4 linked regions of the Homo sapiens genome follow. The protein of the gene in region 4 purifies or fractionates together with the protein of the main gene of each other region. This does not show direct contact. Each region holds a gene or a part of one and is shown on either strand. Other genes may lie near its edges.

Region 1 (8,815 bases), on a different chromosome or scaffold from region 4:
CAGTTACGTCAGTTCACTGCATACGTTATGAGCTACACCCATCCACATCTGGTGTAACACTCTCACTCCAATTTCAGATAACCTTCCTCCTACCATTTTACAGTAATTCACAAGCTGGGATCCTTCTAACACTTTTCAAAAAGTTTAGGTATTTTTCAAAGTAAAGTGTCATATTTGTTGTAGTATTTATGTACTTATTAAGCATTTAACATGTGTGAAACTGCTAGTTTTTATTAGGTTTCTATCTTTTTAAATGCCATTGACAAAGTTTTTGAGTGTTATGCCCCAAACTCCATTTTCACATATGCCCTACAGTTTTTACTGCACAATTTTGCATACCATGATGAGTTTCAGGAACTTATTTCAGCTACAGCATACATACATTTATAATTACTCCAGCTCCAACCACCAACTTCCCAGTGAAATCAAAGGTTATAGAGGTTTAAAAAAAGAAAAAACCTCTGGTCATCCTTCACAATTATCTGAACCTATGAGACTCTTTCAATGGCACAAACACTTTTCCTGAGCAATGTTTCAGGAAACACAATATATGAAAAGAAAAAAATAGACCAGGTGGAGTGGCTCACACCTGTAATCCCAACAACACTTTGAGAGGCCAAGGTGAGAGAAGCATTTGCGTGTAGGAGTTCAAGACCAGCAACATACTGAGACCCCATCTCTACAAACAAATTAAAAAATTAGCCCAATGTGGTGGTGCAAGCCTGCAGTCCCAGCTACTCAGGAGGCTCACGTGGGAGGATCTCTTGAACTCAGGAGGTTGAGTCTGCAGTGAGCCATGATCGTGCCACTGCACTGAGCCTGGGTGACAGAGATCCTGTCTCAGAAAAAAGGAGAAGAAGGGAGGGGAGGGGAGGGGTGGGGAGGGGAGGGGAGGGGAGGAAAGGAAAGGAAAGGGCTATTTATCTAAGACTATTTATGGGCTAATCAAAAAGCCACATAATAAGGCAGATAAGCAGTAAGGTCCTTTCCCAATGAAGTAATGGTTAAGTATTTTAATATCAAACAGCACAAAACACATGCATCCAACTGGACATGGTGGCTCATGCCTGTACTCTCAGCTGCTTGGTAGGCTGAGGCAAGAGGATCACTTGAGCCCAGGAGTTTGAGGCTGAGTCATCACACCATAGTACTGCAGCCTGGGGAACAAGCAAGATCCCTGTCTCTAAAAAACATACAACAAAAGATACATACACATCCACCCCTATTTTTGAAGTTATAGAATAACATCATAAAAATACTCATGATGAGTGGTTAAGTATACACACAAATCAATAGTGTGGTTCCATTTCTCAAGTAGATTCAAAAAAATAAGAATAGAAACACAAATATTAATATGTATAAGATAACAGGTTTTTCTACCTTTCCTTGGATTTATTTCCATGAGAGAACTACAGTGAACACACTGCCTTTTTTTTAACACATTACTTCTACTAGCAGAAAAAAATTAGGATTACATAAATTTGATTTGCATCAACTTTTGCTTACATTATAGGATATGGAGAAGTCTTTCAAGAATTTGAAACCTAAAAGTAACTTCTTTGATTATTTCAGCTAATACAATCGTACTTTTTATTCCTATTCCTCAAGCACCATCTTCTGAATGTTAACTCTGTTCTGAGATTTACATTCTTTTTAAATACTACTAAAAATATTCTGGAAAAAACTCCAAAATAATAGAAAATCAATTGATACTTTATGTAACCTGCAAATTCTAAAATATTAAGTAGTTTGCTTACATGACCATAGATAAGCTTAGTCTGAAAGATGTCTTTTTAAGTTAATTTCATCTGTTTCAGTTCTGTATTTCAAACTGTATATTATTATGTTTATTTATCCTATTCTCTTAGTCCCCCTAGAGTTTTGTTTTGTTTGAGTTTTTCTGAGCCAGGGTCTCACTTTGTCACCCAGGCTGTAGTGCAGTTGAGCAGTCACGGCTCACTGCAGGCTCGACCTCCTGGGCTCAATTGATTCTCCCACCTTAGCTTCTCAAAGTGGTAGCATTAGAGGTGTGAGCTATGGCACCTGGCCCCACAGAATTTATTATGAAGAGCCTGAAAACAAAGTTTCAGCTGCCACAGAATTGTAATCCACAATATAAATTCTCTCCTATCTGTTCACTTCAGCAAAACCTAACAAAATATTAATTTTCAGAATACAACTGCCCTATTTCTTCAACTACTTAAAATAAATGAGACTATCATTGAAAAATACACTGTGACCCACAAAATTTTGCTGGACAAAATCTCCAAAAACTATCACAGAATAAACATTTTACTAGTCAACTGACATGCTAAGATTTGAACTTGCTGGAGCTCTTTTTACCTTTGAAGTGTGTGATTTTGCTGCTTTTAGAATTTAAATATTCCTACAATGTCGTTCAGCCATGGTGCCCTGTGTATTTTTACATAGCCTAAGGAGAATGTAACAGGTGGCTGAGGCTCAATTCTATACATGTAGGTATATGGCTATAACACATTTGCCTAAGATCTAAACAGAAAGTTGACTCAGCAGTTAACCAAATATGTTCAAAATCAATTGCCAGTCAAGGATGCCTATAGGTCTAACATGTAAGATTTGTAATCAATGGGAAAAATGTTTGCACTTGATAGTAGTTTGATAAGATGGCAAACACAATGCTTTAAAAGTTTGAGTTGCTAATTATCAAATACATTTATAAACACAAGTATATGCTTTCACTTAAAGATATGTAAAAATTAAAAATGAGTGAAAGTAAAGTTCTAATTACGCATTAACTATTTGAGGTGTTTCTGTAGTCTAGACTTGTCTAAATTCTGGAAAAGAGGCAAAGCAGACAGAGCATTTTGCACTAAGTATGTGACATTACATAAATGTTTAAAGTACTTTGAATTTCCAAGTAGCTCAACCTGTCTGTTAAAATATGCACAGTTTTAAATTGGAAGAAAAAAATGAAAATGTTTAACAACCTCATAGGAAATTAACCTATACAGTAACTACAATTTCTGATTTGGGCATTTTTATAACATTTTCACAAACATCATTTTATTTAATTCATGTAACAATCCTGTTAGATAACCAGCATTCATTTCATTTGACGGATCAGTAAACTAGTACAGGGTATTTAAGTTAGTTCTTCCCAAACTTTAGTGTGTACCAAAATCACTCAAGTTAAAATGCAGACTCTCAGATAACATCCCTAACCCAGACTGGGGTGGATTCCAGAAATCTGATTTTAAATAAATGGCAAAAGTGATACTGGTAGAGATGGTCCCCCCAGAAACATCTTTTAGGACACTGATTCTAGTACTGTAACTAAAGTGGTAAGCAGTGGAAACTCCTTTTTTTTTTTTTTTTAACTCTGAATCAATGTTCCCAAATGTTTAGATGACAGAGCTTTGCAGATCTCCATGAAAGATATGTAAAAGTTTTATTAAGGTGAAAGTATTACACTCAGTTAAATTGTTAGGTTTTTGCAAAAGTAATCCAACTATTAGGCTGGTGCCATTACTTTCAATGGCAAAAACTGTGATTACTTTTGCACAAACCTAATAAATACCTATTATACTAAACTCCACTGCAAACAAATGGTAGTAGGTGCCCAAGTTTTAAGAAACTTAAAATTGAGGAGATCCTACCATAATTTCATTTTCTCTGTAAAGTGGGAAAGGCTGATATTAAATTATTTTAAGTTAATGGCTTCTCATAATTTGAATACCATATCACTTTACTGAAAGGAAAGCTAAAATTTAGGGACCAGAGGTTCTAAGAACATAATGAAAAATAAAGATGAAAATATAAAAGCACTTAAGAGCACACCGTGTGAATACTAAAAAACCACTGAACTGTACACTTTAAAAGGGTAAATTTTATTGTATGTGAATTATATCTCAATTTTTAAAAAAGGAAAAAAAGCACAGAGAAAATGTCAAACCCTAATATTTGCCAATAATTTTATACTTATAAAACATTATATCAACCTTGCTATTAAATGGCATAATTATTTTCTGGCACACATCATAGGTGCTAAAAAAAAAATGCAGAAATAATAAATAGCATAGATAGGCTTGGTACGGTAGCTCCCACCTGTAATCCAAGCACTTTGGGAGGCTGAGGCGGGTAGATCACTTGAGGCTGGAAGTTTGAGAGCAGCCTGGCCAACATGGCGAAACACCATCTCTACTAAAAATACAAAAATTAGCCAGGCATGGTGGTGCACACCTGCAGTCCCAGCTACTTGGGAGACTGACGCAGGAGAATTGCTTGAACCCGGGAGGTGGAGGCTGCAGTGAGCTGAGATCACACCACATGCCACTGTACTCCAGCCTGGGCAACAGAGCAAGACTCCACCTCAAAAAAAAAAGAAAGAAAGAAAAAAACAAAGAAAATAGTATAAACAGGCCACTAGCTTGATAATGATTTTAAATAAGAATTTTAATGCCAGTGTTTATATATTCATTTGTTCTCAAAATTTTCCATTAAAGTCTCACTTCATCTATGTTCTATAAATAGGGCTATTTTTAAATTCCATAGTCATATACTAACAATTTAACACTAAAATATTCTTTGTATTTCTTAAACTAGGTATACAGTATGTAATACACTGAAGTGTAGTAAGATGGTTTATTACGCACAAGACTGTGAGTGCAAACTATCTCTAATCTACTTCTCACTACATGTATGACCTGAAGCAAGTAACATACCTTCTCTTCCCCATTTTCCCATAGGGCTGTGGTGAGAATTAAATGCACTAATGTATGTCAAGTGCTTAGAACAGTGCCTGGCACTTAATAAGCACACCATAAATGTCATCTACTTTAATTATGTAATTATTATTTTTATGAGAAATGACATCCCAGCTCAGACAACTCAGTACAAATCCTGATAATATTAAAATTTCAATTTACTTTACCAGTGAGCTCAAACATTTAGGAAAGCTGGGCTAATAGCCCAGGTTTTACACTAAACAGTCTCAGTGTTTACACTATATCTACCCCATTCACGAATCAAATTTTCTCCAACTCTGAGTCATTATTAGTTTCTCTCCTGACTCATCACACAGAAAGGTAGACAGTCTGGAGCATAATGGGAATAACAAAAGGCATTTCTTAATCCACCTGGATTTATAAAGTTTACTAAGTGGAACTTGTCCTATATATAATGTTCAATAAACATACTAAATAATTATGACCTAACCTGTGTTCACTTAAAAGTGCTTTCTATATGTTAAATGCTCCTTTATCTTCCCTTTCACCAACACGAGTTCAAACTATGGAGTAGGTGTCATGACCCCATCTTGATAGAAAAACAATATATCACTTAGGTAAAATCAAAGATTCACATTTTCTGACCACTAGCCAAAAATAAATTTACGTTTTGCCGAGAGCCTGGTGTTCAAAATTTTGCCACTCTATAGGTTAGAGGGTCAGAGGCAATCTCTGAGTCCACAAATTTGACCTGAAATTCTATTCAATTCCATACCTTTACTGTTTTCCTCATTCAGATGTTTAAATTACTTAAGATAATCTTTAATAAAAAGTTATGTAAAAATCTAGGGAAATATGCTGAATAATGAAAAGTAGGTTAATTTTTAAAAACTCCCCTTTCCCTAGATATATACATACACACAAAATACACAAAAATGTTTAAAATATTGCTCTATCAGTTACTTTCTATGTGATCTTGAATCATTTAAGCTCTAAGTCTTCATTTTCTCCTCTGGAAATAGTGATAAACAGTGTAACTACCACATGAGATTGCTGTGAACTTCAGTACATAAAGCACTTTAGCCAACCACTAAAGCTAAACCACTTTAGCCAACCACTATTTTAAAACAGAAGTTTTAAATACTGTATATGTTAACTTTTATACTTAAACCAAAACTTCAGTGCCACCTCTACCTATTCAAAGATTACATTTTCTATGGCACCCATCTCCATTAACCCATTCACACAACCCTACTCAATGGCAGTAACTTCACAAACCCCCTGGAAACAAGTATGTAACTGTCTAGGAAGCTTTCTTCAACTATCACTCCTCCTCCCTGGGTTAGGTACCCTGCTCAGGCACTAAGCTATACTTACTACTCTACTTTTCACATTTCCTTATATTACCTGAGAGCACCTCGTGGGCAAGGCTTATGTCCTATTCATTTCTATACCCAGACTGCAGTCCAACAGTTGTTATCACTGACTCACATTTGAATCAAATGGGGAACTTATAAAAATATTAATGCCTGGGATCCATCCCAGACCCATTCAATATTACAGGGTGGGGTGAAGGGACAAAGAGGGCACGGAATTGAATTAGCATGAGCAAACATTTTTTTAAAGATCCTAACATGCTATCAATGTGCTGCTCAAGTTAAGAACCACTGCATGTCGGTACTTAATATACTATACAAACAATTATGTATACATGTACATATGTGAGAACATATGTAAAAATATACAAGTACTGAAAAGTTTAAGACTCAGGTCAAGATTCTCATCCTCAATAGCTTCTCCCAGCCCAATCATCTCCCCCTTTTAAACACACACTATTTCCAATAAATAGTTACATGCTTCATTAAGATGGCTTTTAAACTGTTAACTCAGTACTTAAATTTTTTCATGTAATTATGCCTTATCCTTCTTCCTAGATTATAGCCTTGCTCCTTGAGAATATACACTGCCGTGTTCTTATTTTCTCCACTGCTTAAGGATAGTGTCTTTAACAGGTATGTAATACACATTTGACTGATCTGATAAACACACACAAAAATTACTGGCAAGAAGTATGCCACGTCCAAATTACCCAGTTCAGGTGAATTACTACCAAAAAATAGAAAATGTAAAAATTTAGAAAAAAGGATATTTTTCTTAAAACTCTTAGTAAATTTTATCTCATTAAAGAAGCTCTGGATAGATCGACTTCAGCCATCACATGCAGTAACCACCCAGTTTCCTACCTCCCAAATAGCTAGTTTCGGTTTTTGACCTGGTTCCTTGCCTATAACTATCTTCTAGTCAATTCTGGTATCTTTAGCTGCTGTCAGATACCTTTATAACAGTATTATATATACACTCTATAACTAGTAAAGTGAGGTAATGAAAGTCACAATAAATGTATCACACAGATGTTTCATAAGTACTTCCTTGAAGGAACTTAATGTTTATCCACCATTAAAACCAGATCTCTACATATGAACTACATGTTAATCTACTAATACAGACTTGGTTGGGAATCATGTCTGAAAATAAGAGTCTTACTCGACATTAGATAAAATAAAGTCTACTTTTGAATATAAAGAGATTGGTCATTTTCATCTTTTTACTTATTTTCATACCCGAAAAATTTGCAAAATATGTATGACTTTTTAAAACAGGGGTGCTAAATTAAATATTACACAAGAAACTCCACAGCAACTGGTATTCTCAATGTTGAAACTACCAGGAGAAATGGCACAATTCTAAAAAAGCAACAATATAAACACATGAAAATGGCTCAGCTTTAAAGTTTTGCATCATATATTTTACCACTATTAAAATAATCTGAAATACATAAGTTGTTTTGAAAAATAAGAAAATATGAGGAGGAGGCGCTCAAGAAGTATGTCTGTTAATTAGATACTGTAGTGAAGCATTACTGTTTTGTTGGGTCCTGCAGCTTGAAACGGACAGAGACATAGTTACCACTAAAAGAAAGCAGTCCTCAATTCCCTATTCAATAAAAAGGTTCAAACTCTACAGACAAAAAAAAAGGTACCCTTGGTTTGTTTGTTTTCAGGGAAGATTAAATTTAGGAGTTGCCAACACCCAAACGAAAAACATTCCAGAGTATTAGACTCCATTGTAGTGGGAAGTCATCTACATTCTCAGCACTATGTTCTCTTACTCAAAGCAGGGGTATTAACAAAAGATGTTTCTTAGGATCTCACAAGATACACTCTACTTACTTCCCCCAGTAAACATTACCCTTGTTTAAAAAAAAAAAAAGTACTTGAAAAATAATTTTAGCACATGCAGCCAGAAAAAAAGTGAAGTTTAACATCTGCCAAGATATTTCCCAAAATAAGACCGCTGTCAGATGAACAATGAGGAAAAGATTGAAAATGACAAATTCTTTTATTTGGATCATCAGCTACTTTTAAAAATCAAGTTGAGGAATGTAGCTTTTCCAAAGCCTTGTCTTCAATTTCCCCTTAATCTTCATATTTTTAACTAAAAAAAAAAAAAAAAAAAACACCTAGAAATTTGATTACCACTCTTACGAATTCCTTCTAAAGCAATTTAATGAATAACAGATCTTTTGTGCAAGTAGCAAACCGCAGAGGACAGTTTTGCTGGCTGATAAAAATCTCTGAAACGCTCATATAAATACGTCCTACAAAGACACACTATGATTTAACAGGTATGGAAATCATAATACTAAAAATTTAGGTATATTTAATATACACCCTAACTTATTGCAAATGCTTCTACTTAAACCACAATTAAAGTTGAGTAAAATTAGAAAGCCAGGAGAAGAAAAAGTGAAAGCTAAACAGTCAATGAGAAAAAGATGCAACTATTTTAGGTGAAACAAGGTAGTTGAACCACTTCCTCAAATCCATGAGCTACTATCAAAGTAATCAAAACTTGTTTGAGATTGTTTTGTCTTGTTTCTGGTAGAGGGAGGTGTGATTATACACTTAGTAAAAATGTTTTACCAGTCACTCTAATGGAAGATGCTGCTACCTGTAACGTTTCGAAAATGCTCCAAACTGCAAACAACCCAAAACAAACAAAAACCCTACCACATGTTTTTCAGACACAGTACTCAAAAAGAGATCGTCTTA
Region 2 (6,062 bases), on a different chromosome or scaffold from region 4:
ACTGCATTCAGTCATCATGTCCCCATAGTCTCCTGTGGTCTGTGATAGTTCCAAGTCTTGTCATTCATAACCTTGACATTCTTTTTTTTTTGAGACGGAGTCTCGCTCAATTGCCCAGGCTGCAGTGCAGTGGCGCGATCTCCGCTCACTGCAGCCTCCACCTCCTGGGTTCAAGCGATTCTCCTGCCTCAGCCTCCCGAGTAGCTGGGACTATAGGCGCCCGCCACCACACCCAGCGAATAATTGTATTTTTAGTAGAGACGGGGTTTCACCATGTTGGCCAGGATAGTCTCGGTCTCTTGACCTTGTGATCCGCCTGCCTCGGCCTCCCAAAGTGCTGGGATTACAGGCGTGAGCCACTGTAGCCGGCCGACCTTGACATTTTGAAGACTACTGTTTAATTATATTGTAGAGGGTTTATCTGATGTTTTCTCAGATTAGAATTAGGTTATACCCTGTTGGGAAGGATACCACAAACCAGAGGTGATGTGCCGTTTTTAATACATCGTATCAGGGTGTTAATATATATTATTGGTGATATTAACCTTGACCATTTGGTTAAGGTGTTGTTTGCCATGTTTCTCCATTATAAAGGTACTTACATCAACATCTATAAAGATATAAAGAATAGGGAGAGTTGCCTCTTTGTGTAATCCTTTTATATAAAGGATTACAAGAGTTTAAGAAATCTTTTAAACTTGGCAGTCTACAAGGTAAACAAAGTTATCTGTACTCATAGAGTGTAATTTGTATCCAGGTATTACCTGAGTGATATAAATTCCAGATGCTAAAATAGTTGGCCATTGTTAGGAGTTGGTTACGTCCTAAGAGGAAGGAAAAGAATGGATAGGTTTTATTAATTGGCATCAATTATTTGAACTATCATGAGAACTAAATCACATTTATAAATAAAGAAAAACCGAGGGTCTCCTCTATCACAAATTGATAGTGCAAGCTGACTAACATTTAAGCAAAATCTTGCAAGTTTTATTTAGTGATAAGATAAACATGGCAGTGTGTTTACTTAATTTCTCTGTTAGAATAACTCAGTCTCATATTGCCACCTGGAGTATCAGCCCATTATTAAATGGTCCATCTGTGCCTAGAAATTACCATTCTCACTACAATTCTGTCCGTGTAAAAAGAGCAAGGCTAAGGAACCAAATTTTGTCATTTGATATTACAGGTGTTACTGTTAATTGAGTGCACATTCTTGAAATTTCACATATAACTAGCAGATCTGCAAAGTTGTTATAGTCAGTGTATTTTTTTAGAGTATGAATTAACAAGTTTAAACATTAAGAGGTAAGCCTGTCTACTTTCCAGTAGCCTCAAAGGATACATTTTCTTTACGATTGTTTCAGAACACTTCATGAAACAAATGTCAAACTTGTCAGGGCTGTCACTAAGAAAATGATCCATGTAGCCAGGGTCTTCTTTCATTGGGAAACAAACAGATGTCTTATCTCAGCAGAGAGAAAAAAAAAAACCCTCCTGTATATCAGAAGAAATTTTTGCTTACCTATAATATCCAGTAGTAAAGAAATGCTTTGGTAAAAAGCTTCCTTTGCAATTTTATTTATTATGCAGTCATTTATCAATTATATTTTATTTGCTGTCTGAGTTACTTTAATGATTTTTATTAATCTGGAACTGCGTATAAATTCTTACAAAAATTGACCTGCAATGTGAAAAACATAAATTAGCATTTCCAAAAAGACTTCCCTAGAGCTTTATTAGATCAAATTTTAATGTTATTTATGATAAAATCTATTACTGTTATTTTGATAATGTTATAGCAATTTTAATATTATACTCTAGCAATTAGAGTGGAATGCCTTTTTCACCCCTTCATAATGCTTTTCTGCACCTAGGTTACAGCTATCCTTCTAAAAGGAAGAAAGAGATTGGCTCTTATTTGTTATATAAGTGACTTAACAGCATAAAAGGCAAGATGTTTTAAGACAAATCCTCAGCACAAAGAAAGGTGTGAAACAGTTATGTACCTGTCCTGAACAGCAGGCAGTGTTAGAAGGCATGCATTTATAAACTGTACTTTATTTCTAAGAAAAATTCAACAACAAAAAGACAAACATTATATTAAGAATGTTACTTAACTGGCATATCTATATATATCTTATCCATATATTTAAAACATATTCAAATTAATGGAAGTTGCAAATTTTTATTTCATTTAACCATGTTCCAATAGCTTATATCCATAGTTAAATATGAAAATAAAGTATATAAGTACCTCCTAGTCCTTGGGGTTATTAAGTCTTTACATTTGTGTTTTGACTTAGAGCAGCAAGGTTGCTAGAGAAAACTAGATAGCCAAGCATGTTAAACCGGGAAGTCATACGGTGGAGAAACTTAGTAGACTGTCCGTGTGATAAAGGCTCCATCTTTCTTTTATAAATTAAAGGGTATGAGCTTGATAATGGCTGTTTTGGCTCATGTTGCTTCAAACATTTTTGCTTATTTTTATTTTCACTGTTGTTATATAGTAAGTTAAGATTGCTAGAAGTGTGAGTACTAGCAATCTTAATTTACGATAGTTAAGAACAATATTGTGCTTTTCCAAATTATGTATTAATTCAGGCATACCTTTTATTCGTTCATTATTCCACTGTTTCACATAGTTCAGAAAATATTGATTGGACTACAACTATATACTAAGTATGTCCTGTTAGATGGTAGGAATGTATAAGATACAGAAGATAAAACCTTCCTTTGAGGAACAGATGGACAAATTCAGTGCTACATATCAAAAATTTCTTGCCATCCGTACCTGCTGATTTAACACTTTCTAACAGTGTCTCTCCTGAAGAAGACAGGGGAAAGTGTAGAGTAAGATTTACTTTTTATTATAATGTAGTTAAAATGTAATCTCTAGGCTGGGCGCAGTGGCTCACGCCTGTAATCCCGGCACTTTGGGAGGCTGAGGCGGGGCAGATCACGAGGTCAGGAGATCGAGACCATCCTGGCTAACACGGTGAAACCCCGTCTCTACTAAAAATACAAAAAATTAGCCGGGCGTGGTGGTGGGTGCCTGTCCCAGCTACTCGGGAGGCTGAGGCAGGAGAATGGCGTGAACCTGGGAGGCGGAGCTTGCAGTGAGCAGAGATCGCGCCACTGCACTCCAGCCTGGGCGAAAGAGTCCGTCTCAAAAAAAAAAAAAAAGAAATGTCATCTGTAGGAACTTTTTTCTAAAAGTGGAAAACACATGTTCATTAATAAATTTTCAAGAATCAAACTTAATGTATCTATTCACTGGAGATAAAATAAGGAAAAAATGAAATGACAAACAGTGGCTATCATACTTGGAAAAATATATCAAAGTTACATTGCCAAAATGATATTCAAAACCCCATTCCTGGTGTTCTACATATCTATAATGATTCAGATTGGTTGATAATATTGATAATTTCTCTACTTTCCCAGTGTTAACAAAGTCTAAATCACAGATTCCGTTGAGTTTAGAGAAACAAAGTATATAAAAAAGCTTTTTTCACCCGCCTTAATCATTACTGGCAAGTATGTAGTTTGTCATAGAAAACAAATATGCATACCTTGGTTTGCTTTTACTTTATAAAGTCAATTCACAAAGTAGAGTTCAACAATTATTTAATTCAATGATTTAATTTGGTTTCATCAGATACAGAGATAGAGTGGTATGTTTGATGATATTGATGATTATTACTGTTGTCTAGAAATACTTAAATTGATGTTTATGCTTTAATTAACTCAGAAGAGTACCTTTATGTCAGTTAATAAAAATAAATAATCTTAAATGATAAATCAGAAATATTAGGAAAGCAAGACTGTTTTGTACTTGGGTGTGTTGAAAGAACATGTATGATGAGATGGGTTACAAATTGTAAGATGAAATATTTTTCCAGACTCTCATTGCTTATACTTTGAAGGTTACCATTTAATACTGAACACAAGATGCACTTCATTTCTATGAAAGCAGACATTATGATGTCATTTCATCTATTCACCATGTTCCACAGGAACCTGCTATGAATTATGAGGCCACCACTTAGAATTGAAACTGTAGAAGATTGTAAGCATTCTAAGCCGACATGCACATGCTTCCTATTTTAGACCTCACTGATCTTCAGATAACATATGGTGGTACAAGTAATTGGAAAATTGGCACACCTGTCAAGAAAGTATACTAGATGGGGCAAAAAAATGCCATGCTGGAGCACATGAAGTGTCTTAGCAATTAAATTTATTGTTTTTTGTCAAGCAGTGAAGTAAAAATATCTAGCTCATCCCCTGCAAAGAACACTTTTCAGTGGCAGGTGTTTCCAAAGTAATTTTTAGGGCATTGTTAAAATTGGTTGCTTTTAAAAACATACAGAAAATTTTAATGTGTTCTATAAAACAGCACCTATTGCAAATATTTAAATGTTACATAATTTTACCATTTGTGTTTAGGATTATTAGAATCACAGTAGTTCATAGTTCTACAGATGCAGTTAAAATCTGTCAAGTATAGCTGATAAATGCTCTAAAGTTTATATTTTAATGTTTTCTAAAATTTATTTCACAGGAAGATGAAAATGAAGCTGAAAGAAAAAATATATCTCAGGAGCTCAACATGGAACAGAAAAATCCAAAGAAATAAAAGATTTTCTGTAGTGTTTTTGAAAAGTTTGCAGCTTATGTAATAGCAGATAAAATTTCTAATTGTAAAATGTTAAATTGTAAAATCTAATTTGCAAAATGTTCTCAATAAAGTCATTCAAAATGAAATAGGAGCTTGTATTTGGAATTCGTATATTTTAGAGTAATTTCGACTTTTTTATTCAAAAGCTGGACCTTTAAAAGTTTTTAAAAGGAGAAAAATTCTTAACTCAAATTTGAGAACAGAGACAGAATGTTATTTTTTTTGTAACCTAACTGTTAACACATTTAAATGACCTAAAAAAAAAACCTCTGAAAGTCTTTTTTCTTCTTACTAGACTCTGTGTTCTTCTTTAAGGGCCTTAACATAATTTTGATTATCAATATAAAGAAAAACCAACATAGTTCAAAAATGAACAGGGAATGCTTGCACATGAAAATGGTTAAAACCAGTCAATGCCACAAGGAGAAATACTGTTTCCTGATTTCATCTATTTATATATTACACGATACTCTAGGACTGCAGGGAAAGACTAAAAAGAAATGATAATTTGACGGTCTCTGGCAGAAGTAATGCCATGATTTATAATTTATAAAACATTTACTAAGGACCTGCTGTGTGCAAGGTCCCACACACTATTCCTGGACATTTCAAGAATAGTTCTTTTATGTATTTCTTTGGCTTAGAAATTTTTCAAAATTCACCTGTCCCCTGTCTTTATCAGAGTTCTCAGTAACCAGCCTCTTTACTCTCCCCGGTTCTAATTTCCAAGCTGCCATTTGCCAATGACAGGAAGAGCAATGAATCTGCTTGCTATTTGCAGAGCCAAGTGTTTTTGGCAGATGTCTTTGTTTGATTATTTAAGGCAGAGTTTCTTAAAATGAGAGGCAGAGCTTTGGGAGGCTTGCAAGAGAATGTGAGAGTGGAATCAGTGTATTTGCCTTGAAGCCATATTATATGCATTCAACAAGCCCAATAAATGTGTGACAGCAGGATACGCTGGCAGCTATGATACATTGGGCTGAGATGGAGGAAACTGCAAGTAGTTAAGACAGAAAAATCAAAAGGATAGTCTCAAATAATCTCAGTACGCATGTCAGGAAAACAACTAGAGCCCACAGATGGGATCCCTGGACTAATGAATTCCCTGGATGAATTTTGGAGCAAAGACTTTAAGCCAAAGAAAAGGTTGAGATGGCAGTTCAGAGTCTGCAGGGAGCCTTTGCAATAGGCAAATATAAAAATTAATTTGACACTTTTCCCACATCAATTTATTTCAAAATACCCACATTCACATAGATTTGGGTCATATCAGTAGTTTTACTTTTAAAAAGAAGAAATAATACATGATTCACATAAAAGCTAACATGTTACAGGTACTATGCTAAATGTTTAACGTGTCATGCCACTTAATTATCAACTT
Region 3 (7,000 bases), on a different chromosome or scaffold from region 4:
CGCCTTCAAACTGACGTTCCGTCCCAATGACTGTCACAACTGTGCAAGAATCGTACGCTGGTACAAGAATGGAAGAAGACAGCCTGCAGGAGGCCACATTCACAATGATGAAGACCTCGAGTGGTCGCCTCTGAGCCTGGGCAGCCCATGGGATGGTCCTGGGTGGTGGCAGGTGGGGCTATCCTTCCCTTACCACTCAGGGAGACGGCAGGACTGTCCCTCGGAGAGTTTGTCAAGGAGTCGGCCACTGCTGCTGACAGTGCCTTCTGCTTCATGGCACGGAGCATTTCAACAAGTCTCTCTTTGTCTATGAGAAAAGCAGCCTGAGATTAACGAGCCAGTTGCATCATTTTTTGGAGAGAAGGACAGCGGGATTCTAGCCGAGCCTTGAGGGGCAGGCAAAGCACTAAAGCCCGAAAAACCAAAAGCAGGTGTGATGGGGCAGGCCCAGTTGAAAGGAAGCAACCATCTCAAAGCGAGCCCAGATTGCTCTCGGCATCCACTACACAATGTCCTAGACGTGCTCCAAAGACAGCTGTCCGTGCGGTGACGACGCCTCTGTGAATCACTGTGCCCACGGACCTCGGTGGTGACGTGCGAGGATGTATTCTTATTTCAAGTCAGACAAGGTGGCCCCAACACAAAGAAACACCCCAAAGACCCAGGCCTGGCCTCTGAGGCAGGGTGCCTTCTCCCCCACTCCTACCATTACTGCCACTTCCTGAAGGGGAAAGATGACCCCACGATGTTCCACGCAGCAGATCCCTGATGTCACCCGGCCCTTCTTGACTGTGAAACTCAAGGGCTGCATCGCCCTTAATTTTTTTTCCTCCAAAAATTCAGGGAAAAAGATGCTTTGTATCTAGGGAACTGGGCTGGCAATCAACACGTCACTAGCCCGCTAAGAGAAAGGGAAAACTACTGACTGGTTAAAAGGAGAAAGTAAACGGCTACACCCTGATCAACACCTTGAAGCTGCTCAAGGTCCAAGAAGTAACTCTGCTTTCCTTCGACTTTCTCCCAGAGAGGAGGCCAGGGGCCCACGAGGACTTGAAAGCGTGCGTAAGGGGCAGGGCCAGGAACGTCAACATCTGGGCACCAAGCCAGCCTGCGCTGCAGGCCAAGGAAGCCAAAACCCTGAGCAGGTGTTGTGGCTGCGTTGTTTCTTCTGCTATATGGATTCGAGCCCAGAGGGTCTGTCCCAATGTGGCCCTGTGTGGCCAGACTGAACTGGAAGCATCTTTCAAGGCAAGCCATCTGCTCAGTGTGTGCTGCCCTGCTTGGCAGCCCTTCCCCAGGCCTCCGGCCACCAGGACACAACACCCAGCAGACCACCTAAGCGGTCCAGCAAGAGGAAAAGCCTGCAGCAGACAAACCTGGAACACCTGGCACCTCCCCTCACGCCTGGTGGTCACTGGAGCACTCGGCTCAAAGAGCGCCTTCTCGGGCGCTGGGAGATGGATGAGTGACATGGGTAGTCCTCAGGTCAAGATGGTGGGGCTCTCAGAGCAAAGCCTGTCAGGTAAGGCTGCTATGGAGGGCTTGTAAGAACAGAGAGGCTGTTCCCGGGAGCCGGGAGGAGTAAAGGGGCAGCCTCAGGCTCAGTGATCGCAGATCCTGCCTGGAGTCCACCGGCCCCACCTGCTGCTTCAGAAACCCACTTCCACCCCAGTGAGCCCCCACCTTCCTACCCAGGCGAGGCCCTACCTTTCCTCTTCTCAGCGCTGATGTGGGTCAGGTTGAAGATGGTCAGGAACTTCTTCTTTTCTTCGAAGTTGGGACTGTTGTTCATCTCATCAGGGCTGTAGCGGGTAGACAGCGCCAGTCTCGGTGAAGGCGTCTGCCGCTTGCTCTGAATTGTTGGGGGCGACGGGCTTCTCTCTCGCAGCATCCTCCGCCGCTTCCTCCGCTTCTGGGCCACCAATTCCTCCTTCTGCTGTTGGGTGGTCAAGCCAAAAAGTTGCAAAAACTCTAGCTTCTAGATTGGGAAAGAAAACAAATGAGTTTGAAGCCACTGGCAGTGGTATGCTTGCACTGTCCCGGGGTCCCCTCCTGGGGTCCTCGAAGTGTGGGCCGTAGCTGGCTGCGCCTGGTGGGAGAAGAGCTTCATGGGGCGAACCCGCCAGGACTTCGGAGGAACCTAGCAACAGTGGGGTGGACTGCAGGGTGTGGACGCTAGGAACGAGAGCCCAGCCCAGAGCATGTCCGTGGGGAGGAGAGCCCAGTACCTCAGAGGACGTGTCCAGTTTGAGGGGCGGCTGCTCGGCCACGCAACGGAGGTGGGCCCTGACCTCCTCCTCATCGCTCTCGTCGTAAGAGTCATCGAGGTCGTAGTAGTACCCTGATGGAGAAATGGTTGTATTCAGCCAGACAAAGAGCCTTCATCTGTCCAGTGGACATGCCCGCAGGGCCTCATGTGTGCAGAGCACCTATCAGGCCAGGCCTGCTGGCACCTGAACACCCTGAAGGCCAGTTCCTTTCAACCGAGGTGGAAACCAACATTAACCCAGTCCTGGGGCTTTGCAGGACCGCAGACACCAGGCTTCCCTGGGATCCATGGCTCCCAGTAGCTGGGTGGTCCCCTGGGCTGACAAGACCTCCCTCCTCCCCCTGGCAGGGAACCATTCATCACACAGGCCTGGGGCTGTGTCCACGGCAACACAGGGCTGCTTGTGCACATGCACTCCCCCATGCTGTGGCCATCTGAGTCCATCTCCTGGGAGGAGACAGGCACACACAGGCCTGAGCTCTCTAAGACACAGAGAACAATAGCAGAGCCCCTGCCCAGGGGCGCTGGGGTATCTCCCTCCTCCTTTACAAAGTGAGTAGGGGAGAGAAATTTGGCTGGGCCCTCCATCCAGCCTAGACCAACAACCAGGAAGACCGCCTGTGCCCCAGCTTCTATTGAAGAGGAGGCTGAGCTCAGCACTGGACAGGACCTGAGTGTTCAGCATCAGGAAGAAAACTGGGCTGGAGCCCCTGCTCCCCTCTGCACACTCTCGCCTGCTCGGTTGCTCTTCCTGGCTCTCTGGAGAACTCAGGGAGCCGCTGGCTGAGGACGCCCCACCCCCAAGCAGAAATAAGAATGAAGTGCCTGACCTCCTACCCTGACCCGGGGCAGTGCCAGCCGCCGCGTCCTCAACCCCTGACCCACCTGCTGCAGCTCGTGGCAGCGGCCCTGTATGTGGAGCCCCCGCTGAGCCCAGGCCGGCTCTCCTGTTATGCTGCACTATTAATATTTAAAACTATCTTATTAGCCTCCGCTCATCACTTATTCATCATGCTTGTCTGCGGAACTATCTTCACAGGCGGGCTTTGATTTGGCTTTTTGGGACAATTTGCATCGAGGCAGGACAGGCACGGGGACTAGGGTCTGCCTCCCCTACGAGGGTGTCATGCTGCTACAAAGAAGCCAGTGCACTTGCCACCTGGGGCCTGGGACTACCCCAGGCAAAAAGCAGGAGTGGACGGAGAGGGGCAGGTGGCTGGCATGCAGGCTCCCCATCCCCACTGTGCGGCTCTCCCTGAGCAGCTCGGGGCCCGCGGGGAGGCAGACCTTTCTCCTGGGCCTCCCGCCGCCTGCGCTCCTCCAGGTCCAGCTTGCTGACCAGCCTCCGGCGCTGCTGCAGGAACTCATCATAGATGTAGGCAGGGTCGGGGGCCCGTGGCACTGGGGGCCGGTAGGGCGAGCCAGGCTTCAGGGGTCCGCTGAGCTCCCCGAAGGTGGCCGCCTGTGGGAGGGAGGCCCGCTGCTGGCCCAGGATGGTCTGGGTGGACTTCTCGAGCTCAGCCAGGAAGGGCCCGGGCCCGGGCAGGAAGGGCTGGTGCTCCAGGCTCCCTCCCTCTCGTGGTGGCGGCGGAGGTGGCTGGTACTTGTCCAGAGGGGCAGGCTCACGCTTCCGTGGCCCCTCCTCTGCTTTCTCCGGGCAGAAGACCCGCTCCACCTTCACCAGCGGCACGGCTGCCTGGCGGCTGGGCTCAAATGCAGCCGGGTGGCTGTGCAGAGAGTGGCTTTCGGCCCGCCGCGTCTCCAAGGTGTTGTCCATCAGGGACACGGGGTTCCAGAGGGCCGTGGGTGCAGCATGGAGCTGGGGCTTGGGCGAAATCAGAGGTGGTGGCCCCCCAAAGTGCTGCGGAGGGTCACGGCCACCTGGCTCGTGACGGTTTGGTCCTGGCCTAGGGAGTGAAACCAACCCTTCAGTCAGGGAGAAAAGACCCTTCAGTCATCCACAGGCTTCCCTGGCTGCCTGCCGCTCCTAAGATGACACAGATGGCGCAGCCCCTTAGAGAGCCAGTGCCAACAGGGCTGCAGGGAGGGGACACACACTCCACCCCAAGGATCATTGTTTCTGTCTTTCATTTTCTCTTTTCCTTTCTTTTCTTTAAAGACTCGGCCGGGCGCAGTGGCTCATCCCTGTAATCCCAGCACTTTGGGAGGCCGAGGAGGGTGGATCACAAGGTCAGCAGTTTGAGACCAGCCTGGCCAACATGGTGAAACCCCATCTCTACTAAAAAATACAAAAATTAGCCAGGCATGGTGGCGGGTGCCTGTAATCCCAGCTACTCCAGAGGCTGAGGCAGGAGAACTGCTTGAACCCAGGAGGCAGACGTTGCAGTGAGCTGAGACCGTGCCATTGCACTCCAGCCTAGGCGACAGAGCAAGACTCCGTCTCAAAAAAAACAAAAAAAAAGACTCACTCTGTCACCCAGGCAGGAGTGCAGTGGGGCAAGCTCAGCTCACTGCAACCTCCGCCTACCAGGTTCAAGCGCTTCTCCAGCTTCAGCCTCCCGAGTAGCTGGGATTACAGGCGTGTGCCACCATGCCCAGCTACTAATTTTTCCTATTTAGTAGAGATAGGGTTTCACCAAGTTGGCCAGACTGCTCTCGAATTCCTGACCTCAAGTGATCCACCTGCCTTGGCCTCCCGAAGTGCTGGGATTACAGGAGTGAGCCACTGTGCCCGGCCCTCCAACACCTGCGGCAGGTGTGTGCAGGCTGCTCCAAGAGGATAGGGAGGCTCCCAGCCTAAGCTGCTAGGGAAGGCAGAGACCCTCTCAGGCCTGGGACAGATCCAGTTTCGGTCGATTTTCCCACCTGCTTGCGTGAATTCCCCTAAGGGCAAGCGCTCATCCGCACTTTCCATGGGGAAACCCACTCTATATACTGGGCTGTGGCCCTGCCACCAGCACCCTCTCCTCCTGCTGTGCCTTGTAGGGACACATGACACAGGGCAGGCTGGCCACCTTCACAGGGCAGTACTCCTCCCTCCCCACTGTCCCCGCAGGCAGCCACAAGACAACCTTCCAGTGTCTGCCCAGCCAGAGCCAAACCCACTGTGAAATGAAGATCCTCCCAGTCAGGATGGGGCCTGTGCCGAGACTGCCCCCCAGTGGCCCCTGTCACAACTGCAGCGACCCCACTGCCCAAGTGGCCTGTGGCAGAGGCCTCAAAGTGTCTTCAAGGACCCAGGCTAAGGCCTGCTGAGGCAGGGAGGGAAAGAAGGGATTTCTAACATCAGAACCCTTCCATTAAACAAGAAGCTGCCCCTTAGTTACACTAAATGGCTTGTTTCCTCAGTGCAATTAAAACAAGATTTAATCTACTCACAGGGCTATTTTTAGTATTGTTTTTCCAGCTTATTTTTAAGAGATGGGTCTCGCTGTGTTACCCAGGCTGGAGTGCAGTGGCTATTTACAGGAGCAATCCCACTACTGATCAGCGCGGGAGTTTTGACATGCTCCATTTCCGACCTGCCCTGGTTCACCCCTCCTTAGGCAACCTGGTGGTCCCCCGCTCCCAGGAGGTCACCATATTTGTGCTGGACTTAGCTGGGACACCTAGTGGGTATAGTACACTACAGCCGAGAACTCCCGGGCTCAAGCGATCATCCCATCTCAGCCTCCAGAGTAGTTGGGCCTACAGGCATGTGTCACTGTGCCTGGCTATCTTTCTTTTTTTTAAAGGGAGATATACTCACAGGATGTCTGGACCAATACTGTGCAGAGACCCTGGGCAAAGCTTGAGGGGAAGAAAGAGGCAGAGGCCACAGCAGGCACACGGCCGGGCTCAGGGATCTCTAGCCTGCCCCGGGAGCCCTGTTTAAACACAGCCACCAAGGCTCTCCCTAGTTATTCCAGACTCCAGGCCAAGGGACAAATCCGACGCTGCTGTCCCTCTTAGCAGAATACAACAGGGAACCACAGGAAGAAGCTGTGTCCTTAAGTAAACAGCAAGGGAATGAAACCTGCAGGAGAATAAATATTTCATGCGCCACACCAAGCACTGAACAGTTTTCTAGCTTGGAGCATGAGGGCCCTGTCAGGCCCCCAAGTTCACAATGCTGTAAGGCCACGTGTGCAGCCGGCCACAGGGGAACCACCGCAGCCAGGGGAGGCCAGGCCCTGCTTCCCATCATGCCCCAGGTCCGGATGGGGCAGCTACACTGGCTGGAAGCAGTCCATGGGTGGGCAAAGTCACAACACCTGTGCTGGGGCCCTGGGGAGCCCTGAGGAAGAAGATGCCTACAGGAGTCAGGGCACCCTGATGTTATCAGGCCATGCCAGGTAGGAGCTGGCTGCCCTCAGTCCTCTGGGTAGTAGGCAAGGCTGAGCCTGAGAGGCCTCAGGGACGGGGGCTGGGAGAGGCAGAAGGGATCTCACTTCGGCCGTGCCGGGCAGTGTGAGCCACAGGGAGACTTAGCTGTGGCCTGGTGACAGTCACTCCCAGTCATCCCTGATCAGCGGGGGCGCATTCCCTCGCTGCCCTACTGGATAACGGAGGCAGGCAGAAGGGAGGACAGATTTTAAACCACCAACACGCTTCCGTCCCAGAGCCCAAGGGTTTCTTATCCCAGGACAGCATCACAGCCTTGAGAGCTGGAAAGATGCTCAGAAATCATCCTACCCACCCTCCTTTGTGGACAGTTGAGGAAAGTGAGGCTCAGGGAACAGAATCAGTGTCCCTAGGTCCCTGAGCTGGGCCTGGAGCAGAGCTATGGAA
Region 4 (8,880 bases):
AAATGTAAAGCTTAAAACAGACATGTGGGCAAATCACAATAGCCAGAGTAGCAGAAGCAAGATTGGGGGTAAGATAATTGCATTAATGAAGCTTCTGGCACCAGGCATTGGACCAGGAGATTTACATACAACATTCTGATTCCACCAAACAACCCCATTTGGATTTAGGAAAACTGAGGCTTAGGGAGGTCAAATAAATTGCTCATGGTTACCAAGCTAGTAAGCTCAGCCAGTAAAATGCAGAGACCAGTGCTGAATTTGGGCCTATCTGATCCCATATTTTCCCCACTGTTCACTCTCATTTGTTTTCACAATACAAAAGAAGCTAGAATGGTAGGAAAATGATACATGTATCAATGAAAGGGACTGCATATTTAACACAGGGGCTTCTATGGTCTGGAGAAAAATTAGGCTGAAACATTCAAATCTGGGTTTAGAATGGCTTAGAGATTAAGACCAGGAGAGATCAAGTTTAGGGCTGCTTCTTTACCCAGTCTGAACAACGATCATAACATAGATCTTATTTAGGAATACCAAGGGAGCAAAATTCTAGTTTTAATTTGTAAATTAGAGAGTAAACTACAGTAGAATATGAATATTTGGCCGTATTTACTGTATTCAAAGTCCTGAGAACAGTGACTGGCATATAGTAGACACTCTAAACTTTTGCTTAAATAATGAAAAGTCACGTAAAGGGTATTCTCATTTGAATACCTGTGAAGGCTATGAAATAGAGACAGCAAAGCAGTAAGGTGAAAAACCATTCAGGTTCTTAAGATACTTTCTTTAATCCTCAACCCTACGGCAAAAACAACAACAAAAACAAACCACCACCAAAACGACAAACAAGGAAAGCAACAGTTGCAAAACATTAGCCTGATTTTACAAAGTAAAGTAGATGAAAGAATGAAAAGACACTTCTGTATTATGTATAACATCTCTGTGGATAATCTAATTTCAGTCAGATGGAATCCAGAATTGTGACCTACGGTTTTAATATTTCAAACTGCTGTGAGCAGTGTATCCAATGACTGTCTTTGGAAAAGAAAATGGTTATCTAATCCAAGTATTTGAAAAAAAGATTTGACACTTTCTTTGTTACATATATGGCAAGTAATGGAATGAAATCTCAAATTCATTAACTTGAAGTAACAGTACATGTACAAAAATATTAATTCTTTAAATTTTGATACTATATTTCTATTAAACATGCAAAGAAAACTGCACAAAGGGCATTAAGAAAAAAAAACCTTTGGAGGACAGCAAGCCTCTCTAAAGAAACATTTTTAAAAAGAATAAAAACAGGTTCTATGGACCTTCTCTCTCTATTTTTCACAAGCTTTTCTAATATTTCTTCTTTGATGGAACCAATGAATAACTGCCACTTATCACAAAATACCTTCTTTCAGATAGGTATTTTATATATTGCTTTCTTCTAAACAGATAGTTCTTCAAGCTGCTCAAGTCTTTCAGCTGCAACAATTTTTCTTATTTCTATTATACTGTATTTCTTCCATGGAGTACCATAAAGACCAATTTAATAAAGACAGTTTCCAAAAGGCAATATTACTCTATCTCAATCAGTATTTTAACATGATATTCTCTATTTTTTTCATTTAGTTCTACAATCTTTCCATACTTCAATAATTCCTAACACTACAGTTTCATTTGTCAGGGTGACCATATTATATTTTCTTCTATATTACATTAATATAGAAGATAGTGAACACTTCTTCTTTAATCAATTAATTCTTACTTCGGGCAGTCTACATGTTCCTAACCTATTAATAACCACAAAGACAATGTTTTGTCTTGCTTTTTCAGTCAACTACTGCAGCAATCGTGTGGTCTTTCAAAATATAAATCATACTTGATTTTAGGGTCTTAGATTCTTTTTTAAAAGTGACCACAGAAGATTAAAACATGTATTTTTTTTTACTGTAATATTTGGTTTAAAACATATTTTCTAATGAACCCTAACCCAAACAGCTATTTATTTATTTATCTATTTTTGAGACGGAGTCTCACTGTCGCCCAGGCTGGAGTGCAGTGGAGCGATCTTGGCTCACTGCAACCTCCGCCTCCCGGGTTCAAGCAATTCTCCTGCCTCAGCCTCCTGAGTAGCTGGGACTACAGGCGCACGCCACCACGCCCAGCTAATTTTTGTATTTTTAGTAGAGACGGGGTTTCACCATGCTGGCCAGGCTGGTCTCGAACTCCTGACCTCGTGATCTGCCCGCCTAGGCCTCCCAAAGTGCTGTGATTACAGGCGTGACCAAACAGCTTTTTAAAAAAACTATTATAGAATTAAAATAATCGCAGAGTCTGAGGCTAGATTAAGTACAATCCCAAAAGAAAAAGTACACAGGCCTTATTACTTCAAAAATTCTTGCAAGACAATACAGTTCTAGGTTCACTGATATATATACTAAAATTACTAACATTCAGATTTCACAAAGTAAGCTTCAAATAGATTGATTCCTTCAATACACAGACACACACCCTTCTAAGTATTGTGTTATCTGACAACAGAACCAAGGAATCAAAATTATTGAGTGTTTATTACCGCCTCACATATAGTTTATTAAAAATGAGCTACTGAAAACCAGAAAGTTCTTATTGACCTTTTGTCCTTTGTGAGCCAACTTTTTCCTGTTTAGAATCTGAGCTGAGTCTCATGACCCTTGCTTTATACTTTAAAACCACAAAGAACAGATACCATTTAAAAATCAGTGATGAATTAAATTACAAAGGAGGAAAATGTAATAAAATACAACTTTCAAAAATGTTACGTGTAAGCTACACATAAGAATTTTTAAGGCTGAAGAAGCTGTTCTCAGGCACAGGGCAAAACCTGTAGCCCAAAATCAACAGTCCTAATAATTTAAGATGTCAATTTTATCAGTTAAGGTAACCTCAAATTTGAGTACTTCAGTGTGATACTTTCATTCTGCTAAGATGAAAATGCCCCAGATTTTATGTAAAATATTCAGTCCCCTAAATAAAAAGTTATCTCCTTAAAAGAGAAGCTAGATTTCCTGTTGCATGTCAAGGCAGAGGGCACCACACTTCACCCAGCCAAGGCTGGACTTGAGTAGGGGTGCAGGTGTTGGCAATTCATCAGTCACACAAGCTATGTCGTCTTGCAAAGGTGCATAGAGATTTTTAACAAGGGCTTTCGAATTCTTTGAAGAAAACACAGACAATTTTGCTGGGGAGGAAATGCTCCATATTCCACGTGGAAGCAAACTCATAAATTCTGACTGCAGGTTGGTGTTCAGCACAACTTGGAATAATCTAACTTTTCACATAAAACACAATCCCCAAGCTGCAAGATAATGTCTCCGCGAATGGCACCAAGCACCACCTTTTCAAGCCCTCATCAGCACTGGAAGTGGGTCGGACACCCCCAAACCATCACCACCCCCCCACAGGAAGTGAGGGTGTCCCCCCTCCCCAGGACGGCCTTCCTCCCCTCCCCCAACCGGAAGTTGAGGCGCCCCCATTCAGCCGGCCTCCAACTGAGACAAACCAGTACCACCACCACCAAAAGAGGGGTGATCTTCAAGGGGTGAAGGGCATCTCGACTGGGGCCACCCCCAAGCTCGCCTTGCTTACTGACCTGCTGACGACAGGGGCAGGAAGGGGCCTAGGGCCAAAAGAAAGTCCCTTCCACAGAGGACAATTCCCTCAGCCCCTCTCAATCGCCTTCACTTCACGCACTCGTCGTCTCACAGCTGGACAAAAATTCTTCCGCAGCACTTTATTTTGGTGTCCTTTCCTTTTCTTTACCTAATCTCTTAACCACCTTTCCACAGGTAACTCCTCTTACCGCATAGCATTTACAATTGCTCCGGTGAGAAGAAAAATGAAATATTTTCCACGGTACCTTCACAAAAATGAAGGGATTATTTTGCCCCAATGCGGCGAAGGACTACGTGGTTACGCAAGGTGAGCCTTATTTTCGTGGAGGTTTCTGGGAGATGTAGTTTTTTTTTTTTTATTGCGAAGGCCCGCAGAAAGTAGAAGAACTGAAATTGGTCATGACTACATATTAGCGTCCTCGAAAACATATTCTGTATTCGATGACGGCTGACCTAGCGGGCCCCGACGCCCAAATGGGCCCAGACTCCCCTGGTCTTTTCCTCTGCGGCTTAATCGAACCCAAATTTTCCCTCACGCGGGCCCAAGGTCTCGGCAGCCCCGCCCCTTGTCTTAGCCCCGCCCTCCGCAGCCAATCAGGCACCCTTTAGGTCTCGTCCTCTGGAGGTTGGAAGGCAGAGAGGAGGGGCCTGGCGGTGACTCCTCCCGCTGGGGCTGAGGGAGACCTGGGAGACGACCGGGGCCCGTGAGCGCGCGCGTGCTCACGGCTCCAGGAGCGCGGCGAGCGGGCGAGGGCGCGCGCGGAGGGGCGGCGCGCGGGGCCGAGAGGAGGCGGGCAGGCTGGTGGGCTGGGCGGGCGGCGAGCGGCCGGGAGCGCGCGGTGGACTCGGCCGCGGCGAGTAGTTAGTTAGTTGTTGTTAGTCAGTGTCAGTTGCTCGGCGGCGGCGGCCGTGGTCACCAGGAAGGGGACGGGACGGACGGTGATGGTGGTCGCCGCGGCGGCGTGTGCGCCCCTCAGGTAACAGCGGCCCGGCTGTCCGCGTCCGCTCGGTTGTCTTCTACTCACGCGCCGTCTGTGGGACCAGGGTTGCCGCGGGTTGAGGGCGCTGACCCGGGGGAATCCGGGCGGGGCGGCGCGGGTTCTGGGTGGCGGCGCGGGTTCTGGGTGGCGCCGCCGCCGGGGCTCTGGCGGCCGGTGCGTCCCGCCCGGCGCGGGCTCTAGCTCCCCGGCCACCCCCGCGCCCCGCCGGTGCCGCGCGCCCCCTGCCGCCCCTGCCCCCTCCCTCGGCGGCGGCCCCGGGAGCGCGACGCCCCCCAGAGGAAGGAAAGTTGGGACCTGCCGCGAGGGACGCCCCCGGGCGCGGCTGGGAGGTTGCGGGGGAAAGTGAAGCCTGGAGGAGCTGGACGCGGGGAGGCCGGGGCAGGAGGGGCTTCTCTGGCTCCTGCCGGGTCCACACGGTCAGCCCGCTCCCGCACCCGGGAGCATCGGCGCAGCCTCGCCGGCAGCGTCGGGACGGAGCCGGGTGGCTCCCTGCCTGCTCCCTTCGCGCCGCGGCTGGGGAGCCCGCGAACGTGTGGGCTGGCGGGGTCGTTTGGGGGTTGTGAGTGGTTCGGCTGCTCAGTTTTTTTCTTTTCTGCCCTTTGACCCATCCGTTCTTGCAACTTTTCTTTCCTCCTTCGATGGGGACTTGCCGTCTGAACCGCGTCTGCCCCCTCCCCTCTCGTCGCATGCACCATCCGTCTGGGAGCTTGATTTCGTTTTTTCCTCCTTTGGCTACGTTAAAGATTGCTGAGAGCACCGGGAGAGACCCTCCTCCCCCGCCTGCCTCTGGCCTGTTAAATGTTACTTTTTGCGATTCGTTGTTTTTTAAAGATCCAAGTTCAGGAATTTGAGAGCTGTGGAATGGAGTTATTGGAAGGCTGACGTTGAGGGGGTAGTGATGAGTTAGAGGAAAACTATGATTTCATCTTTATTGGCCTTGCTATAGAAAACCTAATTGATTTTTTTTCTGCCTCTGTTGAATGTGGTAAGATCATACGTTGAATTAAATACTTAGAGACTTACATAAAAGACTATTTTTAGGTCATTGGATGATGTACGTGAACAGCTTTTCACCTGAATTGGGATTGCCTTGAGGATTCTGTTTTGGGGCCTACTTACTGATTTTTGTTCAGCCACAGCGTCTTTTTTTTTCCCCCGATAAATGAAGTGATGTAGTGATGTGTATAGTCAGAGAACCCATATTGCTCTCTGCAGTGTGGAAGTGAAAAACGTGAATTATCCACCGGGGTAAAACTTTCCATGAGCAATCTTGGATACTCACTTCATGATGGCTTCTCTCGTAATCTCAGAGCATTTCTAGATAGCTCAATTCACTGACGACCCTAATTACTTTCTGACTTGCCTGGGACTTCTCTTTGGTGACTTATTTAGTAAACTGTAATGGCAGATATGGTACATTTTCTTGGCTTCAAAGTTGAGGGTTATAGCCTCAGCCCAGAGATGAACAATGGAAGTAGAAGTCATAGCATTGCTAGTGAATTTTGGATATGACCAACTCACAAACTATGTGAAAAAACAAACATCCCCTTTTCATTGCTGTCGGGGGGGAAAGGGAAATATTTTATCATGTCTTTATTTTGGATTCTCTAACATGACTACATTATGTGGGAAAAAATGTCAAATTATTTTCTTTAAGGCTTTTTAATGTATGTTCCTTCTTTTCCCTCACTACCCCCCATCTCCTGTCCCAACTTAGAGGCTAAAATTTATGTGTGGCTGTGTTCTAGGGTTGGAAGAGAAGTGTTTTGGTGAAAGAAAAAGATAAGATCACTTTGAACTATTATGATACCTCAACTATTCGTTTTATCCAGTTGATAGTATACAGAAACTTTCACAATAATGTTTGTAGCCTATTAACATTCAAAATTCATTTTTAAGAGTCTACCCTGAAGGCCCATGAAGAAATAATGCCACTTCATAACTGTTTGCCGACAATCACATTAAAAAATATGTTCCTGGAATGCATTATACGTGTACTCATATAAACATTTATCTTTGTACATTTATGGTAATGTAAATATTTAAGTCTGAGAGCTTAAAAACTTTTATTTGCTTATTTGCATACATGTTTTTCAACATCTAGCAGTGCCAACCATATTTGCCAAATAAGCATCAGCTATAAATTCATGCTTTGGCACATTTCATATAATAACTCTTCTAAATTGTTCCGTGGTGAAGCATCATGAGATTAGCATTTGCTTCATGAGAGAGATTTGTTGTTCTTTTTAACTGTACTGATGTGCTGTTTAAGTGGAACGGGTGCTGGGCCCTAGCCATTTGTGTTGATACCTGCCAAATCATACCCTTTTGTTGGATGGGTTGTTTAAGTAATTTAGTAACCAAACTGTGGCCCCTGGCATGCCAAGTGTGAGTACAAGGCTCCATATCAGTGTTGCAAATCCCTGTTTTCAGTGTAAGAGGCAGATGTGTGTGATGAGCGTTATTCTGTCATTTGCTGATCTCTTTACTGTGATTCCTACCTCTTGCCCCCCTCCCCCCCCGCCCCGCATCCCCCCACCCCACTCTCCTTCCTAGTCCTTTCATTACTAAAGCTCCTGGTACTTTCTAGGTTCCCTCAAGGCTGGTTTGTTTTCCTTAGTGAAGTAGAAATCCTAGTAACCTTCAGGCCAGGAATAGATAGTTTACATTTGTTTGACAAATGTTTGAGTACCTTTTAAGTGCCAGGCATGGTGGTAGGTAGGACCTGAGTATTATAGAATATGAGATTCCTTTTTGCAAGGAGTTTACAGTTGAGGAGGAGAAGATAGGTGATAACCAATAATTATAGTATGACAGGGGCATGCACACATTCCTATGGATGGAAGCACAGAGGAGGGGTAGCTGACTCAGACTTCGGGGGATGGGTGGAGGGTGTCTAGAATGCATCTTAGAGTGTTACCTGAGCTAATCTTCAATAATAGGTAAGAGTTAACTAGGTCCAGAAAGAGGGAAAGTACATCTTATACCAGTGCTGTCCTATAAAATTTAATACAAGCCACAAATATGTTACATATACAATTTAAAATTTTCTAGTAACCAAATTTTAAAAAGTAAAAAGTGAAATTAATTTTAATAATATAAACTCAGTATATCCAAAATATCATTTCAACATGCATTCAGTATAAAAAGTAATATTGAAATATGACATTTCCATTTTCATACTGTCTTCAGAATCTGGTGCATAATTTTCTACTGTTTTCAGAATCTGGTGTGTAATTTACACTTATAGCACATCTCAATTTGGACAACTACATTCACATACTCAATAGCTGCAGGTGAGTGGACAGCAGCAGCACAGCTTTAGAACAGGGGTGGATGAAGTAATAAGCCAAATCAATGATTGTCTTGTGAACCAAGTTAATAACTTTAACTTAATTCCAAAAGTTGCGGGGATTTAGTGGGGAAAAAAAATTATGCTGTGGTAGAATCAGATTTGTATTTTAGACCTGTCATTTTGACAGTGAAGTGAATATTGAATTAGAGAGGGACAAAACTGGAAGCAAGGACCAGTTAGGAAGCTATTCCTGGTGAGAAATGATGAAGAGTGTAGAAGAGGGAGTGGCTCTATGAGAGATTTAGGAAGTATTATTAACGGGACAGGATAAATCTATTTAGATTATAGAATTGAGCAAGATTGAAGATTTTGGATGATTCCTACATTTCTGTTGTGATCCGCTGAGTAGATTGGGCAAGCAGCTGAAGAGAAGCCAACCATCTGTGCCAGACAGACCAAAGATGAAAAAAGGAAATAGAGATTTGTCATGGAAGCTGAGGGAGAATATTATTTCAAGGGCTAGGAGTGGTCAACACTGTATCCTGCCTCCAAAAGGAAAAGTAAGATAAAGACCTAATGAAGTCTCTGAGACTTGGTGATTAGGATGTCTTTTATAACTTCAGCTAGAGCACTTAGCTACATTGTAATGCATGGGGGTGGGTGTTGAAAAGTGAATGACAACTGTAAGTGTAGCTAATTGAGAGGGGTACAATGTTTTCAACAAAGGACTCTGAAGGAGTCTTTAAGCAGGGGGAGATACTTGGGATTTAGAGAATCTTGGACATTCTTAATGTGAGCCTGGAAAGAGCCACTGGAGAGGAGAAACTGAAGAAGAGTGTATATGTGTGTGTTTGGTGGGCGTGGGAGACTGGCTGGTGGATGGAGACAAGGATTTGAAGGTAATAAGGAATGGGATCCAGGGCGTAGGCAGAGAAGTTGG

The links.
Region 1: the proteins of HMG20A (region 4) and PAWR purify together in Homo sapiens (affinity purification with mass spectrometry; 3 studies listed by BioGRID and IntAct, with this or other methods). This does not show direct contact.
Region 2: the proteins of HMG20A (region 4) and PHF14 purify together in Homo sapiens (affinity purification with mass spectrometry; 4 studies listed by BioGRID and IntAct, with this or other methods). This does not show direct contact.
Region 3: the proteins of HMG20A (region 4) and GSE1 purify together in Homo sapiens (affinity purification with mass spectrometry; 3 studies listed by BioGRID and IntAct, with this or other methods). This does not show direct contact.

Annotation. Positions count from the first base shown.
Region 1 is NC_000012.12:79,680,268-79,689,082, forward strand, and holds part of PAWR (PRKC apoptosis WT1 regulator protein), read right to left. Parts: intron 1-8,815. UniProt on the Homo sapiens protein: Pro-apoptotic protein capable of selectively inducing apoptosis in cancer cells, sensitizing the cells to diverse apoptotic stimuli and causing regression of tumors in animal models.
Region 2 is NC_000007.14:11,164,852-11,170,913, forward strand, and holds the end of PHF14 (PHD finger protein 14), read left to right. Parts: intron 1-4,564; coding exon 4,565-4,639; 3' UTR 4,640-4,767; downstream 4,768-6,062. UniProt on the Homo sapiens protein: Histone-binding protein. Binds preferentially to unmodified histone H3 but can also bind to a lesser extent to histone H3 trimethylated at 'Lys-9' (H3K9me3) as well as to histone H3 monomethylated at 'Lys-27' (H3K27ac) and trimethylated at 'Lys-27' (H3K27me3).
Region 3 is NC_000016.10:85,658,322-85,665,321, reverse strand, and holds part of GSE1 (genetic suppressor element 1), read right to left. Parts: intron 5,945-7,000; exon of another isoform or gene 5,647-5,944; intron 4,177-5,646; coding exon 3,557-4,176; intron 2,342-3,556; coding exon 2,229-2,341; intron 1,979-2,228; coding exon 1,708-1,978; intron 308-1,707; coding exon 194-307; intron 1-193.
Region 4 is NC_000015.10:77,415,747-77,424,626, reverse strand, and holds the start of HMG20A (high mobility group protein 20A), read right to left. Parts: upstream 3,740-8,880; 5' UTR 3,623-3,739; intron 1-3,622. UniProt on the Homo sapiens protein: Plays a role in neuronal differentiation as chromatin-associated protein. Acts as inhibitor of HMG20B. Overcomes the repressive effects of the neuronal silencer REST and induces the activation of neuronal-specific genes.